2 separate regions of the Homo sapiens genome follow, and region 2 is linked to region 1. A link means that fine-mapping ties the variant in region 1 to the expression of a gene that starts in the linked region. Tissue or cell type: visceral fat. Region 1 holds a variant in brackets; the other region holds the start of a gene. All regions are shown on one strand. Distances are between the middles of the regions.

Region 1 (10,171 bases):
ATAATGGACTCTAGCTCCATCTAAGTTGCTGCAAAAGACATTATTTCATTCCTTTTTATGGCTGAGTAGTATAATTAAATAGTCAAAAACCAATAGATGTTGGCAGGGATGTTGGGAAAAGGGAACACTTCTGCACTGCTAGTGGGAATGTAAACTAGCACAACCACTATGGAAAACAGTATGTAGAATCCTTAAAGAACTAAAAGTAGAACTACCATTGAATCCAGCAATCTCATTACTGGGTATCCACCCAAAGGAAAAGAAGTCCTTACATGAAAAAGACATGCACACGCATGTTTATAGCAGTGCGATTCATAATTGCAAAGATATGGAACCAACCTAGGTGCCCATCAACCAATGAGTGGATAAAGAAACTGTAGTATATGTAAACCGAGAAGCTTCATTGCTAACAAGCTCCCCTTTGATGCTGATGCTTCCAGACTGTGAGCCACACTTTCAGTAGCAAAGCTTTGGAGCACTTTCTACTATGGAGTCACGTTTTGTATCCTAGCCCTTGCCCAAATGTGAACCTGGATAAATTACACTGTACTTCAGTTTTTGAATCTGTGAAATGGAATAACAATGAACTTACCTAATAGGGTTGTTGTGAAGTTTACATGAGTAAATATACAAAAAGCTCTTATAATAGTCCGTTATAATTAGTAGACATTTCTGAAGCTATCATTTTATTTTTTTATTTCTTCCCAGTTGAGCAATAATGTGTTGTGATAAAGATATAGAAACCATCATTAGAGAATTTAATTTGTTTAAATCTAGACTTTAGAAATAATCTAAGGAAAATCCTATATTTTACAGTCTAAGTGTTCAGATTAGCTAAATACAGAGAAATGCGGTTTGTTAATCTCCTGGTATACATTCTGCTTCCTTTTGCCACCCTCACCATTGTCCACTATAAATGATTTTTTTTTAACTACAAATATCTCAAACGCTTTTGAGAAATCGACAATTTAAACTACCATGTGGAGGTAAAAAAATGAACAAACAAAAAACTGAAAGGCAAATCATACACATTGTTACCTAGAAACCCCAGATTTTCCTTCAAGATGGTGCAATAGCAGTGACTTGCTGTGCTAGCCTCTGTATCTTTGTCCTTAGCATTTGTTTCAGTAGTGATACATCTGTAACCTCAAAGGTATAAGTGATGCCCCTTCCACTGAATTATTTTTGAGTAAGATGGAGAGGTGAAAAAAATATAGGATGGGCTTCAACTTCAACTGCAGCCCATGCATTGATGATCTTTGCTGACAAGAATGTTGAACATAATGAAGGATGCATGACAAGATAGAAAAGTGGGTCATAAAAAACGGAACGCCTTTGCTGCCAGGATGCCGCTCTGGTTTCTGGGTTAATCATGCACTGCTGGAAAAAGCATTTGTGTTCACATGCCCGAATGAATCTAAAGACCATAATGAACAAAATCTTGTTTTTTTTCTTACCCCTCTATAATGGACACTGGTATTTGCTTTTCTGAGGAGGTAATTGTAGCTATCTTTCTCTCCCAGGTTTTTTTCTTTTTTATAGCCTAGATAACTGGATAATGCTTTAACAGCTATTAAATAATTACTATATTTGGCATTGAGGTAGCCATAGAAATAGATAAAGCAAAGTTAAGCTTCCAAGGAACTCATAACTTAGAACAGCGTATAATGCTTCTCACACATATCATCCAATGTGTGAGGTAAATGTATGAGATAAACATTATAAATGAAGTATTGCGGGTATTAGGAGAAGGGAAAAATTATCAGTGGACTTTCCTTGAAGGAATTAACAGTTAATCTTTGCCAGGAAAATTAAAGAGAATTTTAATATGAAAGGAGGAAGGGGCTTATCAGATGGGATTATAAATAAATCCTAGGCAAGCTCTGGTAACAGCAGCATTTAAATCTGGCCTCCACATAAGTTGTGTATTTGACAGTGATGGAATAAGAGAGTACTTGAGGGTCAGATCATAAGAGACTTTACTTGTGCTAAAGAATATGGACCATTTTTCTTCTAATGGAAATGGGGAGACCTGAAGATTTTTACATAGAAAATTATCATGTCTAAATTGTGGTTTCTGAGCATGCCATAATCAGCTGGTGGATATGGAACAAGGACTAGTGAAAATACAAGGAGTCAAGTCAGGATAATCTGGGGCTGTAGGCCTCTTCCTACTGAATGATGTGCCAAAAGGCCGAGATTAAATAACCCTTAGTTACTACATAAATTGACTTTCCATGTAACTTCAATGTTACATCTATTAAGCTCTATAATAAAAATCAATTTTCCACTCTTATCAAGACAAAGGAGTAAATATGGAAGCCATGGAAGCTGTGGCATGAGCACCATCTGAAGACGGTTATGCTGCCTTCTAAATCCAGGATCGTGACTCTTGGTCAAATCTAAAGAATAAAGATTACTGACTTTGACACAACGTGTTGTGTTTCTAATGGTAATAATGAGAACAGAAATTATTATAATTAATCCAAATTAATGAGAACCAGAAGGAAAATTGAAAATAAATGAAAAGTGAAAAGATTGTAAGAGTTAAGGAACAAACTAGTGCATTAAAAGTTTACTTTTATTTTGTTTGTATCTTGTACCTAATAGTAATCTAAATTATAGAAAACACTTTTGTTTTGTTTTCCACCAGAAAATGTCTGTTATAAATTTTGGAATAGAGAAACTAGTGGTGAAAAATTTATGTATTGTCAAAAACCATTCTAGGGTTCTTTTGTGATTACTCCTCAAAACAACCCTATTTCATAGTTGTTATTAACTTGCCATTTACAGATGAGGAAACAGTCCCAGAAAGATTAAATGATTTTCCCACATTAATTTTTCTATAAAATACCACAACCAAAGTTAGAGCCAAGATCTATTGGATCTAAAGCTCACACTGAAATTGTTCACTAATGTTGCATAAAGTCTACTAATGTATTTTACGGAAGAATCACAAAGCATGATTATTTCAACCAGTGAATCTGAAGTGATAATACTTAAGTTTATGTTTGGGCTCTGCTCCTTAACCAATTTGGCGTAGTCATACAAGAATTATTAATTATTTTTAGACTTTATTGTAAAATGGTGGTTGTTACCTGCTTTATGGTTGTTGCTGGAGTAATAGAAAAGCTCAATGTGAACTCACAGTCTTGAACACTATATAAATCATGCTGAATATTTTATTAATATTAATACCAAAGTTTAACATTTTATTTAGCACTAAAATGATGGTGGTAATAATATTTGGGCTTTGTGAAGCTCATACTTTTGATTTTAATATGTTCTGTTGGTTCTTGTGTTTAAATGAACCTTGTTATTTCCATTTGTCTAAATACACATAATGTCAGTTTAGAAGCAGAAAATCAACTCTAATTGGTATGTAAGAAGTAATTTGGGATAATGGTAGACACTCGATTTTGAAGTCCCACAGATCTGGTTTTATTTTTTAAATCAGACACCCTGGATGTATGTATTTAAGCAAATCACTTAACTTGAAATATTTCCATATTTACCAAATGAGAGATTAAAATATGTAAAGTTACTATGAGTATATGAGATAATATACATAAAGTCCCTGATACACAGTGAGTGCCTAGTGAAAGGCAGATTCTATTGTAGTTATTAAAGCTAATTTCCCATTAATTCCCTTGGGTAGATGACTTCACAATATCATGAGGGAGAAGACAACATTGGCAAAAAGAAATTTCATTTTTCTTCTGAAAGTTTAATAATAATAACAAACAAATAGGTCACCAGGGCTAAAAATCAGAAGGTTGACACTCTCAGACATTTCTTTGACCCTTAATATTCTATCAGGCCTGAAGAACATGAAATAATGTACTGGCAAGGAAATTGGCAGCGGGCTCCTGTGATTAAGGTCCACATTACAAAACAACTTATATTTAGGTACACAGATAAGATTTTTTGTGATCATTATATGTTAAACTCATATATATTTAGAAAGTTTTTATATTAATTTGTCATGGACAATAGGATTCATACTCTAAAAATAATGTAAAAGGAAATTGTTAATAATAGTATACCAAAAGATATCTTTCTTTGATGATTGCTCTGTAGGTTCTTAAGAGTGATAAAATGAATAGTCTTTGAGGTCAGATTACTTAGTTTTATTTTTGCTTTTCTCTAGTAGCTGTATGGCATTAGATAATTTGACTTTAAATTTTAGCTTCCTCATCTGGTAAGAAATAAAAAAGGGCAAACAGTTGCCTCTTAAGTTTGTAAAAATTAATATAATCATGTATGCAAAATACATAATATGATGCCCAACACTTTGTGTTAAGCACTCCAAAATGTAGTGATTCTTGCCAGTGGCAAGTTACCAACCATCACTGTGGAGCTCGTTGTCCTGTAGAAAGCAGTGGGCTGAATCTGACCTCATTTGAATGTTCCTTTGTGTAGGATATATAAATATTGGTTTATTTGCCTGCTGTTTTCTAAATTCTTTCTTTGCAAAATAGGTGAGAATTTATTCATTTGAGAATTCTGAGATTTATATCATCTCAGAATTTATTCGAAATTTCTGGTTCTTTGCTTACAGAGCAGTGGCCATTTCTATTTCTGTCCACCAATGTCTCAGCTTGTTTCCAGTACCAAATTTAAAATATGGAACTAATTGAAGCCAGTTTAAAAAGGCAAAATCAACTTAGCTTTTGAGACAAACCCATAATTTTTCACCACTGTTTTCTCTGCCTGCCAAAATAAGCACTTTCTTAGGCAAATCTTATTTTCCTTTGAAAAATCCATAGGTGTAAATTTGCAAGCCGCTTTCAAACTTTTGCCTCATTAAGCCTAATGCTTTTTGGAATCACAGTAAACTATTTGCTTCAATAATTTATTTTGGGAACTAGTTACAGGCACTAATTCAGCTTTATGCAGAGAAGTATTTCTTTCTACCCATTCTTTATTTCTTGCTTTTTAATGTTATTATATGTTCTTCATGTGAAACACCAAACTTTTATTCTCCATACCACTGATTGATCTTGTAACAAAACAAGTGTGTGGTTGAAGGGACATACGCATACATAGATAGTATTTTGTAATGTTGATGTCCTATCAGAATATTAAGGAAACATGAAAATACCATAGTCTACGCAGTGTATTCATAAATTGGAAATCAGAGTTTGATTTGTAAGTTTATTTTGAATATGAAATAGAATTTTCATGACAATAATTTAAGAAACAGTGATTAGAATACAGTCATTTAAATTCAGCACATACCTATGAAGCACATACTATGTGTAATGCTCTGTGTCCT[C/A]TTTACTACTGGGGACACACTATCTGACTTCATGAACTGAACTTCATGTACCTATAAATAGTGATACTAATAACTAGCATTTTCTGAGAAGTTATGCTAAATATTATATGTTCAACATACATTATCTCATTTATCCCTCCCAGTGAAGAGGATACAGTTGTTACACTCATTTCATAAATTAGGAGCCAAGACTTATAGATATTTAGTGTCTTGCCTGAAGTCAGAAAACCAGAAAGAATCCTTATTTGAAACCAAGCCTGCCAGACCTTGAAATTCATGTTATTACTCAGTAGAGGTAAAGCCTATTTAAATGTCTTATGTTCTCACCTTTAAGTACCACTATTAGCTAGATGGATATTTGCAGGCTAAGTTGAGTGTTTAATTGTCATTTACAATATTGCATTCTTCAATAGTGTCCCACAGATTGTTGATATTATATCTGCCTCACGCTTCAAAAAGTTAGCAGGGGATCCTTCCAACTTCAGGTCCAAAATTGAGCCCTGTTGGCCTCACTACCAGCAGTGGTGGCAAAAGAAGGCATGCCAGGTGAAGGGAGTAGAAAGGTGTTAAGGTCTCACCCAAGGTTAATGCCTTTGGCCTGAGGGAAGTTTGCCCTCAGATATAAATTAATGAACAGAGTTTGGGCCCCCAGACATGGATTGGTTCACCCTCTTACTCTACGTGTACGTTCTTACGTTGATATTTTAAGAAAGAAATTGTCAATGGGAAGGAATTTTAGGGAAGAAACAGGTAAATAATGAAAGAAGAAAATAGAAATTTTAAAAGAATATAGTAGAAATCTCTTAAAAAAACAGCAAACTTTTTTTTTTAATCCTCTAAAAGTAGATGGATTTGTGTTATTTAGTAAGAAGACATTTTCACTGTAAGTGAAAATCTCAGGACTTTCTAATCTTAGATTCAAAGTGTTTAAAGATATTGATGGGATAGAGTTTAAGAGATTATATTATTATTCACACATATGTGATTGTGTGGTAAATGGGCTACTGGGGGAGAGGAGGGCTTTACATCTCCTTGCTGGAATATTCATGGCTTGCGTAGGCTGGAAGAGTTGATGATGCCTGCATGCATTTTCATAGGGTGGAACAAATCTGAATGTTTTCCTGTTGGGGGGGTGGTTCATGGGCTAATCTGTGAAAACTTTTATTTATCTCTGTATTATACAAACCCGTGATTCTGTCATTAGAATTGTCTGAATAATTACCAAGCATAAAAGCTGCATCATGATTAAAACATGAAATACAGAGGATGTTTATCAGAAAATTTTCCAGATCTCTTTGAACTTTTACTTTCATGAGAGTAGATGTTTTTTGAGATTACCTCATGGGGAAGGCGTAACTGCCTAATCATAATAAAAGTCTTCCTTCCTATGTTTATAAAACTGACAGATGTGGTTTCCAGAAAGTCAGATAATTTAGAAGTCGAGAAAAAGACAAAACTAAATGGTAAGTTTGTAAAATATCTTAAATGATTCCAAATTCATTTTTCCTTTAGATCAATGTCTAAGTTTGGAGTAGTTGTAGACATTTTTCAATAAAATGATTTGTGTTAATCTAATACAATTTATCTGAAGGAAAAGGTCAAGAAATAAGAACATTTTTAAAATAAGGTATCTGGTGAAAGTAAATACTGAAAACTCTGAGACTACATGTTAGATTTGTCTCTTGAAAATTGTTTCAGATAGCTTAAAACTCATGAGATTATAATGCTGAATCTTTTAGATTATTCTTGCACGCGTATTTTTTACAAGTGAGGAATTTCAAACAAGAGAAATTATGACTCCGATGATAGAATTTGGCAAAACTTTTACTATAAGCCAGTCTTTTCAAATCTGTTTGTTGTTCTTTCTATGAAATCTTTTTTGACTCTCTGATTATTCGATATAATTGTCCTTAAAATAAAAAAAAAAACCGTCTGGTTTTACTCTTCATTTACAAGAGATATCAATAGTGAAAATTTAAAGTAAATGATTTGTTTTTTTAAATTTATTAATAAACTGATGATGTAGCTATGCAATTCTATGCTTATTTTTAATATATTTGAGGACACAGAGTTTTACTAGATGACAAAAAAGGCTAGTCTAGTGTGGATGGGTCTGCCTATATACTCTATTTCTATTTTATTCATTGTGCAGCACTGATGAAAAAGAGAAGGTCTAATTTTCTGGGTTCCAGTGACCCTCTGATGAACACCGGGTGCTGGAGGTTTCTTCTAAAAGATAGCAAGTTTAAAATCTGAACTGGTGAAAAGTAATTCATAATAATGCTTACTTAATCGGGAAATAAAAAGAGGGACTAGAGTATCTAAATGCAGATGAAAGACCTTAGCTCTGCTCTGTATTTCTGTGGGTTAACCTCACAGTGGTTAAGAGAGTGGTTTAGAAACAACCAATTTGCTGAGCAATCCTGCTGACCAGTTCTCAACGGAAGACCTGGGGGAGTACTCTGTTGCTCTCCAGAGCTCTCTCTGTAAGGCCCTCTCCTCTCTTGTACTCTGCCCTGACATTGCTAGCTGCCTTGGCCTCCTTGACATTTCATTCAGCTCCTGTCTTTCTCTCTAAATCTAGGCTAGCATTGGGTATAGAAAGATGATCAGAGACTGGGAAGAGCTCATGTATTGGTTAAGAGAAATCTGATGCAGTAATGTGGTCAGGCATATATTTGTAATATTTTATAGAGTAAAAACTCAATGCTGTTATATTTTATTGTTACAACATAAGCAAATCAAACTGTCCAACTCTCTACCTTTCTCCTGTTGCTTATTAGAGTTGTTAAGTTTAGAAAGTAATGGATAGGTTGAGCTTCACATTTTTTTGTCTCCTATAAACTCCCACCGCAGTAATATAGTTTTTATTGATTACATACACACATATTTTTCCTACTTTTCACACTAGTTAATTATTGTGCAGACCACAAAGGTGAGAGTTCTAGTGAAACATGCGCTATCTCTTTCCTTGGATTTATGTAAACAAATACAAACATGAAAGTAAATTTGACACAGCTTCTGCTTCTCCCCTGCAGTGGCTTTGTGTGTTTTCATGCCAATTGTCAACATCCATTTTTCTTATCGCAACACTTTTCCTCTCCTTAATTCAGTTTTTATGTAGAAATTTGCCCAAGAAATAACCTAGTTAACCTCAACTTCTGTTTCAGCATACTTTGACATTTGTTGGCTAGAAAATTCTTTTTTTTTTTTTTTTTTTTTTGGCTTTTTCAGCAGTAAGAGGTGTGTCTGCATTTAGAAAAATATGTTCAATTATATAACTTATTTTGAAATTAACCATTGAAAAATTCACAGGGAGGCAATAATGATTTAGATGGTTTTGATTCATATATTTATTTCTCATTCAAAAAATAACTGGAACCTTCATAGTAAGAGGGGGGCATGATGCTTGAGAACACTACCTCTGTTTCTCTAAATCTACAAAATAAACCCAAATAAATAAAAATGAGAATAGATAAAAGAGAATGCAATAAGTCCTATCTTTTAAAAAGTCATAGGCAAAGGAAGAGAAAAAAGGAACCTTTAAAATAACATAGCGATTTCATCAGCTTTCAATTTCCTCTGTATGCCAAATATATTGATATGTTAAGAAAAAAAGTTTAAGAGACAATATCATAAAAAAACCCCTCCATTACCACCCCGCTCAAAATAATAGAATGAGCCCAGAGGCAGAGTTCTTAACATGAATCTCAGGAAGTCTTTGCTTGGCCCATAAAGTGCTAGGTGGCCTGACCTCTAGACACATCTCTGTTTCTCTCGTATCTCATCCCCTTAATTCACCCGGGTCTGTTTTCTTTGTCCTTAATTTCCTGAACATGCGCAAACCCTAGAGTCTCTTCTGAAGCTTGGTCATGTGACTGAAACGTTTTTATACAGCCTTCACATGATTAGCTTGTTTTATTATTGTTTAGATCACTCTAAAAGTGATTGCTATGCAAACCTTCATGATATGAATGAATAGCAGCATTCATTTTAATTACAAAATCAGATAGGGCTTGCCCTCTTTAGAGTTAGTGATGGGTTAGGCACTAACTAGGAGTACTTCTAGCTTGGGGATGTGCAGGTATGTTTCTGTTTCTTAATGGGAGTGTGAGTAATGTTTCCTTCCTAGATCTAGACATTGGTTTTTGAAGGTGCTTAGTTTGTGAAATGTATTAGGCAATAAAATTATATTCTGTATACTTTTCTGTATATACTTCAACAAAAGGTAGCAAAATACACACAGTTACAAATCTTATCTCATGTTATCAGACACTGTATAACCACAAGCAAGTGGTACTTAAACATGTTTATTTGGATTTTGTTTCGTTTTGTTTTTTCTGATCCCATTACTTTGTGTTTAGCCTCACATAATATCTCCATCCACTTCTGGAATTTTAAATGCTAAGAACTGAAGGCCATCTTCTAATTCTTTGGACTTAGACCAGGCCAAGTCTTGGACATGAAATGTTTCATTCTTTCACCAAATAATTCTCACTCACGCCAACCCCACTAAAATAAATAGCTACAAGTTTTCATCTTCATTTCCTCATCCGCAAATTTCACTCACATAGTCTTTCATTGGCAAGTAGTCATTTTTTTGCCTTGTGAGTTTATTTTGCTAAGTGTTGTTTGTATTTATTAAGTATTCTTAACATGATATTGTAACTTTCACTTACAATATGGAATATATTCATTAGAGTACATAAGGTGAGAAAGTCTGGAATTAGAACTGTTGAGAGCCCGTAGCCTGGAATTACATGGTACTGCCAGATGGAAAGTAGTCACGACTTCAGCAGGAAGAATACAGGTGCTCTTCTTAGAAAACTAGTCTGTTCAGAGAAATAGTCTGATGGTTACATTGCGATTGCAGTGTATGACTTACCTGGGCCA
Region 2 (10,171 bases), 29 kb before region 1:
CTGGCTGATTTGGAGTTTGTTTTTTAAGTTCCACAAATGTGTTCATTTTCCCATTTTCTTTGTGTTATTGACTTCCAACTTCATCTCATTGTGTACAGAGAAGATACTTTGTACAACATCTATATTTTATATCTATTAAGACTTAATTTGTGGCCTAACATGGTCGGCCTGGAAAATGTCTCATCGGCACTTGAGAAGTATATGCATGTAGTTGTTGCTGAGTTAAGTGTTCTGTGCATGTCTGTTAGATCTAGTTGGTTTATTGTGTTAAGTCCTCTGTTTCTTTACATATATTCTGTCTTGTTTTTCTATGGATAATAGAGAATGAGATATTGAAGGCTCAAACTATTACTGAGTAACTTTTTATTTCTTACTTCAACTTTGTCAGGTTTTGCTTTATATATATTTATAGTCTGTTATTAGGTATGAAAATATTTATAATTTCCATATCTTTTTGCTATATTGAAACTTAAAAAAATTAATTATATTTTAATTTCTGGGTTACACGTGCAGAACATGCAGTTTTGTTACATAGTATACATGTGCCATGGTGGTTTGATGCACCCATCAACCAGTCATCTACATTAGGTATTTCTCTTAGTGCTATCCCTCCCCTAGCTCCCCATCCCCCGACAGGCCACAGTGTGTGATGTTCCCCTCTCTGTGTCCATGTGTTCTCACTGCTCAATTCCCACTTATGGGTGAGAACATGTGGTGTTTGGTTTTCTGTTCTTGTGTTAGTTTGCTGAGAATGATGGTTCATCCATGTCCCTGCAAAGGACATGAACTCATCCTTTTTAATGACTGCATAGTATTCCATGGTGTATGTGTGCCACATTTTCTTTAACTAGTCTAACATTGATGGGCATTTGGGTTGGTTCCAAGTCTTTGCTATTGTGAAGAGTGCTGCAATAAACATACGTGTACATGTGTCTTTATAGTAGAATTATTTATAATCCTTTGGGTATATATCCAGTAATGGGATTGCTGGGTCATAAAAATAATGACCAAAAGAGAGCAGAGGTGGCTATGCAAAATCAGACAAAATAGACTATAAATCAGAAAAGTTGGCAAGAACAAAGATATTATATATTAATAAAAGTTTCTGGTCAGAAACACTAAGATCTTGGAGAGAAAGAAAATGCACTTAGGTACATTTTTACCACAGTTTTTCTGCACAGGAAACTTACAAATAAAAACAAAAATAAAGAGATGCTGAAGGAAAAGTAGCAGCTTGAACATATGTTCAAGCCACTGGGCTCGGAGCAAAGAAAACAAAAATAAAACAAGCAAAGTCACTGGGCTCGGAGAAAAGAAAACAAAAATAAAAACCAACAAGGAAGCTACCAAGGAAGATAGCATTTAATGGGGACAAGATCCTGAAGAAAAAAGTTGTATGTGCATGAAGTGATATGTAAGAAACTAAACAAAAATCATATACTAAAACAGCTAAATAGAAAAAAGTTTATAGAATATGAAGAAAAAGTATTTTATACAGCTGTACAATGTATTTGTCTTACTTTAAGTGTTCTTCCAAAAGAGTCAAAGAGTTAAAAATAAGTTTATAAAGTAAAAAAAGTAATAAGGAGCTAAGGTTAATATATTATTGAAAAAAAGAGTTTTTTAAATGAATCTGGTGTAGCCTAAGTGTGCAGTGCTTCTAAAGTCCACAGGAGTGTACATAATGTCCCAGGTCTTCACATTCACTCACTACTCATTCATTGACTCACCCAGAGCAGCTCCTAGTCCTGCAAGCTCTATTCATAATAAGTGAATTATAGATGTACCACTTTTAACCTATTTTAATATTTTTACTTTTCTATGTATAGATACACAAATATTTATTATTGTGTTACAATTTCCTATAGTATTTAGTACAGTAACATAATATACATGTTCATAACCCAAGGAGCAATAGATGACAATATCATATACCCTAGGTGTCTAGTAGGCTGTATCATCTAGATTTGTCTAAGTACACTCTATAATGTTCAGATAACACTGAAATGGCCTAATGAAGCATTCCTCAGAATGTATCCCTGTACTTAAGTGACACAGGACTGTATATGATCAAATGTGTTATATTTTTAATGTATTGAATACCACAGAATCTTTAGCACATTCTACCAGATTAACTCATTTCTGTGCATATGTGAATAAAACTTTTCTTTCCATCTGTGTGTACATGAGGGGTATACTGAATTGGCATGAGGAGTAGTTAAATTACTACAAACCTTTGCAAATAATTACTGAATGAATTGGATTTAAAAAATATTATGCAACTAAAATATATGATAGATACTGAATTATAGTAAATACAATAGAGACTGAATTGGGACTTTATAATACAAAACCAAAAAAATAGTGATTGTGTCATTGTTATTAATTTTATAAAGTTTCATAAGTTTATATTTATAAAACAAATTCATACTAATATAGTATCACTTTTGTTAATTTTATATATACTGTGGTTTCATGTGTTTATTAGCAAAAATCAAGTTGCTTCTATAAAAGTTATAAAACTACTGAAGAAAAACTATAAGAACATTTATGGAAGAGTTTGTACCTGCAGTGCCTAAAGAGTGCTCGATGATGCCTATTTGATGATTAAATGGATAGGCTAACTTACGTGGCTAATAAGCATGTATATATAAGCCTATATTTGATGGTCTTAAATTTCTTGAGGAATAATACTTTTCATATTCCATATATGAAAATAATCGACTTTTAAAAATCCTACACATCTTCTTAGTTATAAAGCCAAATGACCAAATGGTTTCCATAAATGTGTATAAAATATAAGCTCTGTTTCAGCTACCATTGTGGCACAGGTGTGAACCTAACATCTGCTTCAAATTAGGGTGATCTTTTTAAGAGCTGAATTGGAATGCTGCAGAATTCCATTAGAGACTACGTGAAAATGTGGACAGGAATAGCTAAAAACACTACAACTACTGAATCAGCCAAATCCTCCGAAGTTGACATTGCTACATCCTGGAATGTAAAAATAAAAACAAGGATGCAACTGGAAAAATACATTTGAAGGTGCAAAGCATGCACTTGGTTGAACACTTATACCAAGGATGGAGGAAGTAAAATGCAGCTGCACAGAACTGAAAATATTTTCTGGAAAGTAATGCTGACAGGTGATATGCTTTTAAAGAATGGCTTCTTACTAGCCATGCAAAAATATGCAAAAGTTGTTTTCACCCAGCATGTTCTGGGTCTACAAGACATTCTGCAAATGTACTGAGGTCTGTTACCAAAAAAGGAAGACGAACAAAAATAAATATTTTAATATTTCTAATATTTCTCCTGGTAGAAGCCCTGAAGTGATATAAAGTGCCTGCATTATAATGAAAATGAACTTGAGCAAACCTTGCATTTGGATGTGGATTTTTCCTATGGATCAGGATTTTTGAGTACCTGGAAGAGAAAAGGAGCATTATTTGTTATAATACTTTAACAACTATTTCAGTACTGCTTGTTAGACAATTTTTAGGAAGACTACACATAACTTTTTAGGAGATATGTGGAAAAAACAGATGTTGACCAGTATTACTGTGGTACATAGGTGGAATGCAATTGCTCTTTGATACAAAGCTCTACAAAAAAAAAAAAAAAAGGTTTTTTTAAATTATAGATTTTCCTAGTTAACCTGTAACTGTGTTTTTTTTCTTAGAGAGATAAAGTGATGGAAAAGAAGGATGAATAGTCTGCCCAGGACTCATAATGTTGGTATTTCTTTTTTATAGTTAATTCACAAAGGTGGTTATCACTGGTAACTCTTTGTGGAAAATTCTCCATTCTTTTTTCTTTAGAAGTAAAAAGGGACTGTTTCATATTTTATCCAAATTACAACCAAATTGGTGAGGAAAATGTGAGTCAAAGTATTTTCTAAGTCATAAATATTTTTGAATGTTTTTGCTACTAAAGTTTCACTATAACAAATCTCAAAGAAATAAAATATACTAATAGGACATTTATGCTCTTCAAGGAAGTTCTGATGGGAGCATTTAAGTCTGGCCCCAACCTGGGGACTACCTGCTTACTTATTGTCCCCGAGGTTATAGTCATACCCTGAGGTCAGTGGCTTCAATCTTTCTGTAGTTGCTGGTCAGCTGTGGGACAGAACTGAATCCACCTCACATTCTATGTTGGGTACAGCTGAAATTTAGTGAGTTCAGCTGGGCACAAAGCTGAGTAATTTTCAAATAGAATAAAGCAAAGCTGTAATCTATATCTTTTTCTTAAACACCCTCTGTACCTACCCATTAGTAATAAATTTGGCTGGGTGGTTAGAGTTTGGGATGTAGAAGTGACTCTAATATTTAAGAGATGAGTCTGCTAGTTTACTCTTTTTTAAAATAATTTTTGAATTTTGAAACTTAATTTCTAAATAACACTCTCTAAAGAATCTAGATCAAAAATTGTTATTTCATCAGGAGCATTAACTAAATAAACACTGTTAATAATAGCATTGAAAATTATTACACACCTATTGGCTCAAGCTTATGGCTTTTGGTAGAAGAAATAGCAGACCATAATTCAGATTTCATTCATTCATTCCCATCAAGAGGAAAGGGTTTGCCGATCTAAATTTGAGCAGGTTGGTGAAGTATGCATATGTCTTTACAAACTTATTTCATAGTTTCATTTAACAAATCTTCAGGTTCAATTTCACCCTCAATACATGCCTTATAGAGATAGATATCACAATTATTAGATGAATTTATGATTTTAGGGTTTGCATCATACCCATATATTCACAAGTTTATAAATTCTGTTTTTAAAACCATCAGATCTTGTGAGACTTACTATCATGAGAACAGCACAAGAAAGACCTGCCGCCATGATTCAGTTACCTCCCACCGGGTCCCTCCCACAACATGTGGGAATTCAAGATGAGATTTCGGTGGGGACACAGCCAAACTATATCAAGAGTTTAACTGACAACTGCAATCATCCCAGACACCTGACCCCACTTGCCTGTACCTTTCCTCGGAGGTCCAATAAAAATGCCTGAAGCTCAGTGTTCCATTTAGGGTTCCACTTTCTCACCAGGATGTCTGTACAAGAGATGCATAGTCTTACGGGAGAGTAAAGTATATATCTTTAAACAATTTGTTTACTATGATATTCTACTAAGTGCATTTATTATCTTGCTTTCTCTCCTACCAGCAAAGGAAAAAAAATCATCTTAAGTAAATTTTTATAGATGATACTATCCCAAATTCTTCAACAAATGTTTTCCTGTATAATTTTTAAAAGGTTTGTTAAATGATAATGCCTTACTGATAGATTGTTGTATAGAAACTTTACTGGAAGGGATTCAGGAATACTGAAGAATGGAAGAAATCACAGAGAAGTCCAGCTTCTGATTCACCTTTGTGGGTGATATGGTTAGGCTTTCATCTTGAACTGTAATCCCCATGTATCAAGGAAGGAACCTGATGGGAGGTGATTGGATCCTGGGGGTGGTTCCCCTATGCTGTTCTCTTGATAGTGAGTTCTCAGGAGAACTGATGGTTTTAAAAGTGGCTCTTCCTTCTTCACTCTGTCTCTCTCCTGCCACTATTTAAGATGTGACTTGCTTCCCCTTAGCCTTCTGCCATGATTGGAAGTTTCCTGAAGCCTCCCAGCCATGCGGAACTGTGAGTCAATTAAACCTCTTGATGTGGTTTGGCTGTGTCCCCACCGAAATCTCATCTTGAATTCCCACGTGTTGTGGGAGGGACGCGGTGGGAGGGTCTTTCCTATGCTGTTCCTAAGCTCACAAAATCTGATGGCTTTATAAACAGGAGTTTGCCTGCACAAGCTCTTTTTTTCTTTCTGGCCGCTGTCCACGTAAGATGTGACTTGCTCCTCTTTGCCTTCTGCCATGATTGTGAAGCTTCCTAAGCCACGTGGAACTGTGAGTTCTCCATTAAACTTCTTTCCTTTGTAAAGTGCCTAGTCTGGGTTATGTCTTTATCAGCAGCGTGAAAACGGACAAATACACCTCTTTTCTTTATAAATTGCCCAGTCTCAGGTAGTATCTTTGTAGCAGTGTGAGAACAGACTAATACAGTGGGCATGTTCTGCTCCATACAATCTGACACTTGATTATAAAGTAATTGTTCGCTGTACGTTCTTTTATCTCAGAATAACCTGTTTTCTAATTAGTGCTTTATAGAGTGTTATAAAGTGTTATAAAGTGTTACAGAGTGTTACTTTAGCCTTTGCTTGCTGCAAAAGAAAAATTGGGCCAGAAATTGGCTATATATCTATCGGATCTCCCTCCCTCCCTTTCTATCTCCCTTTCTCTCTCTGACGAATCTAATCTGTGAACGATGGCATTTGAAAGCAAAGCAAAATGCAAAATACGCAAAAATAAAAGTTCTCTGGTGTTAGAAGACAGAAGAATCTTTTGAAAATTTAATTAAAAATTAAATTACCAGGCCTCTTCCTTAGAAATTCTGATGTGGTAAGTCTGAGCTGGTATCCAGGAATTTCCACTAAATAAGCTTCCTTGTAATTCCATTGCAGGTGATTCTTCTACTCATGTTAAAAACACTGGCTTAGGGAATCTGTATTAGGGATTATTCTGGTTGGCAGAATTTACCTATTTTCTAGCTATTCTACTGATATTTCCAGAACTGGTGGTCTATGATAAAGCATTTGAAACTTAAGTATTCGATTCTGGCTATTTGAAACTCACATTTTTCCCAGAAGGGCATTATTGTCCTATTATGAACCCAACAGCCATTCCTGCTTTCCTTTTTATTGACTTTTGCTTGACCTACTCAGAAATAACTATTATTTGGGTCCAGCGAGGCCCCAGGCTGTTACATATTTAGCACTTCTTTCTCCAACTCTAAGCCATCCAGCTTGGCTTAGCTATATAAAAAGCTCTTTCTCACAGCGGTGTTTCTGCCTGGTTGTTTATTTAGTGCATATCAGTTCACTGTTGCTTGCTGAATTGTTTCTTTTTGCTTGGCAGAGATGTTAAGTTCCCTGCTCCTATTGCTACATATTATCTGCAGCTTTCAGCCAAAATTATTAAGCAGATTTTGTTTAGTGAAGCTACATTTATTTAAAACAATTTTCTTTACCTGCAATCATTTGACTTTTTCATGATGTTCCTGCCTGATTTGCTTGAGATTTTTAATGATAATTCACCAAATAGTATACGGGAAGGTGGTTTATAAAATCATGTAGGTATTTGAATGGTTCAAAGGATTTTACTGTTCCTTCCACCCCAACATGTACCTCTTTTCATTGTAATTTGCTTGTGTGTGTGTGTGTGTGTGTGCGTGTGTGTTTTCATCCCTTCTCAGTTCTTGAAAAAGAAGTTGTGCCACATAATTAGTGGCCATTTAAGTCAGAGGTAATTTTTGGTTTACAGTAGCCATATGTCCTGATGGCACAGTTATTTCAAATACATTATTCAATTTTCTTCATGAATGTATTCATAGTTAATATGAGCGAGTCCTGAATTACGGGTGAGGGTTTATTTTCACCATTGCTCAATTTCAACAATTTGTGTTAATTCTACCTTCTAAACATCTCATGTATTCTCTCCTTTCCGTCCCAGTTGTCACTGCCTTAGTAAGCTGTCACTGTATTCTGCGGTGGACCATTAGGGGCCTGAACCTGAACTTCTATTTGCCCTCTGGATTACTCTGTTTAAATTCTTCCACTACACTTGAGTGATCCTGGACAATCTGCCTTCTCATGCCTCTGTGTCAGTGGTCCCCAACCTTTTTGGCACCAGTGACTGGGTTTGTAGAAGACAATTTTTCCATAGACTGGGGTGGGGGGAAATTGTTTCAGGATGATTCAAGTGCATTACATTTGTTGAGCACTTTATTTCTATTACATTGTAATATATAGTGAAATAATTATGCAATTCACCGTGAAGTAGAATCAGTGGGAGCCCTGAACTTGTTTTCCTGCAATCAGATGGTCACATCCGGGGGTGATGGGAGATAGTGACAGATCATCAGGCACTAGATTCTCATAAGGAGCTCGCAACCTAGCTCCCTCACATGTGCACTTCAAATAGGGTTTGTATTTGCTCTTAATAGAATCCAGTGCTGCTGCTGATCTGACAGGAGTTAGAGCTCAGGAGGTAATGCCAGTGATGGAGAGTGGCTGTAAATATAGATGAAGCTTTGTCCACTTGCTAGCCGCTCACCTCCTGATGTGAAGCCCAGTTCTCAACAGGCCTCAGACTGATACCCGTCTGTGGCCCAGGGGTTGGAGCCCCTACTGTATGTGTTTGCCTGTGACCTTCCCTGGCCTGAAGTTCACAGCCCAGCTGACCCACTGGCAATTCCTAAGCATTATTTAAGAAAGTTAGTGTAAAACTCTTCTCAGTAGCTTCAAAACTCCTCTCTGTCTCAAGTGGGCCACTTGAGTCCTTGTTCTCATCTATCTCCTGTGTCCTCTTTTGTTGCAGAAGTTGTGACGTGTCATGGAAAATATTGTTTTCTTCATCTGTTTCTTTGGAAAATTGATGTCATTTTGCTCATTAAAAATCTTTTGCCTAGCCAAGTATCTTGCAGGAAATAGATGTTGATTTAAGAAATAAGTATTTACATGTGATAAAGAAGAAAGAATATAATAAATTGACGTTTGTGTTCATTGGCCTCCATTATTTTTAATGTAAGCCCTATTTCACTTGCCAAATTTTTGAGTCTGCAGGAAAGTTATTTCCCTGTCTGTTATAAAGATTTTATGTTTTTATGTCCTTGTTGAAGAGTTGAGCTCCAATTTTTTTTTAAGAGACAGAGATTGTCGGGTGTAGTGGCTCACGCCTGTAATCCCAGCCCTTTGGGAGGCTGAGGCAGGCAGATCACCAGGTCAGGAGATGGAGATCATACTGCCCAACATGGTGAAAACCTGTCTCTATTCAAATACAAAAAATTAGCTGGGCATGGTGGCACATGTCTGTAGTCCCAGCTACTCTCAGGAGACTAAGGCAGGGGAATTGCTTGAATCTGGGAGGGGGAGGTTGCACTGAGCCAAGATCATGCCACTGCACTCTAGCCTGGCGACAGAGTAAGACTCCATCTCAAAAAAAAAAAAAAAAAAAAAAAAAAAAAGAGAGAGACAGGGTCTCACTGCATCATCCAGTCTGTAGTGCAGTGGTGTGATCATAGTTCACTTTAACCTCAAATTTCTGGGCTCAAGCAATCCTCCCACCTCAGCCTCTCAAATAGCTAAGACTACAGGTGTGCACTACCACACCTGACTAATATTCTCTGTTGACCTCTGTTGTTGTTGCTTCAGGTGGCAGTTTAAATATAATCTAAGAAATGAAACTTGACCTCAACTCACTACAAACCTCACCTACATGACGGTTATACCCATGGGAGAACGTCACGTATATGTTTATCTCTGTTCCCATGTGAAAATGACAGTTTTGAGTCTCTTTAATCTAGTTTTTATCCTGGTAATTCCCAGAATATCAGGACATTGTTTAATTTTTATATTCCTACTACAAGATAACACATTGTTCTGTCTAGATCTTTTCCTGCCTGTTCCCTCCAAAGCTACTCTCCGTGCTGCCAAACTCAAGGGTTTAGTTCAGATCTCAGCTGAAACTTCAAGAAAGGTTTTCATGATTGTCTAAGGCAAAGTCCAGTGATTGTCACTTACCTCCCTAAGCCCTGCTTTCACTCCTATGAGAGCATTTATTACTTTGCAATATGACAACATATTCACATCTCTGTAGTTAAATGTTAAACTATTAAATTGCAAACAGAGATTATCTCCTTCACTGTTAAACCCATGTACTTAAAGAGGTGTCTGTATAATAAATATTTATTACATAAATACAACTTTTTGTGTTAGAACTGACATTACCGTTGATCCTTGAATAACATGAGTTTGTACTGTGTTTGTACACTTTTACCTTGATATTTTGCAATAAACATATTGAAAAATTATTTGGAAATTTGTGAAAATTTGAAAAAAACTCACAGATGAATCCTGTAGCCTAGAGATTCAAAAAAAAAAAAAAAAAAACAAAGGAAAACTTAGTTGTGCTGTCAATTCATAAAATAGATGTAGATACTAGTTTATTTTAGCATTTACTATCATAAAAATACACAAGTCTATTATGAAAATTTAAAATTTATCAAAACTTATACAAACACCTACAGACATGGTGCTATTTGCAGTT

Direction of the effects. Alleles are on the strand shown, and positions count from the first base shown. SD is a standard deviation of normalised expression in the study named.
As copies of A replace C in region 1, the expression in visceral fat of the gene that starts at base 5,607 in region 2 goes down (moderate effect, 0.50 SD a copy in GTEx).

What was found. PIP is the estimated chance that this variant, and not a neighbour inherited with it, causes the effect. A credible set is the group of variants that fine-mapping cannot tell apart.
Region 2: it holds the start of LINC02147, and the variant in region 1 is the best candidate, but not a certain one, in a credible set for the expression of LINC02147 in visceral fat (GTEx, PIP 0.72).

What each region holds. Positions count from the first base shown.
Region 1 is chr5:117,753,672-117,763,842 of GRCh38, forward strand. All of the region lies in intron 1 of LINC02147 (long intergenic non-protein coding RNA 2147), which reads left to right. Among named protein-coding and RNA genes, the nearest start is that of LINC02147, 28 kb to the left of the region's middle. The variant C/A (reference allele first, on the strand shown) is at 5,279.
Region 2 is chr5:117,724,755-117,734,925 of GRCh38, forward strand. It overlaps LINC02147 (long intergenic non-protein coding RNA 2147), which reads left to right and starts at 5,607. Exons shown (of 3, transcript NR_104997.1): 1 at 5,607-5,654.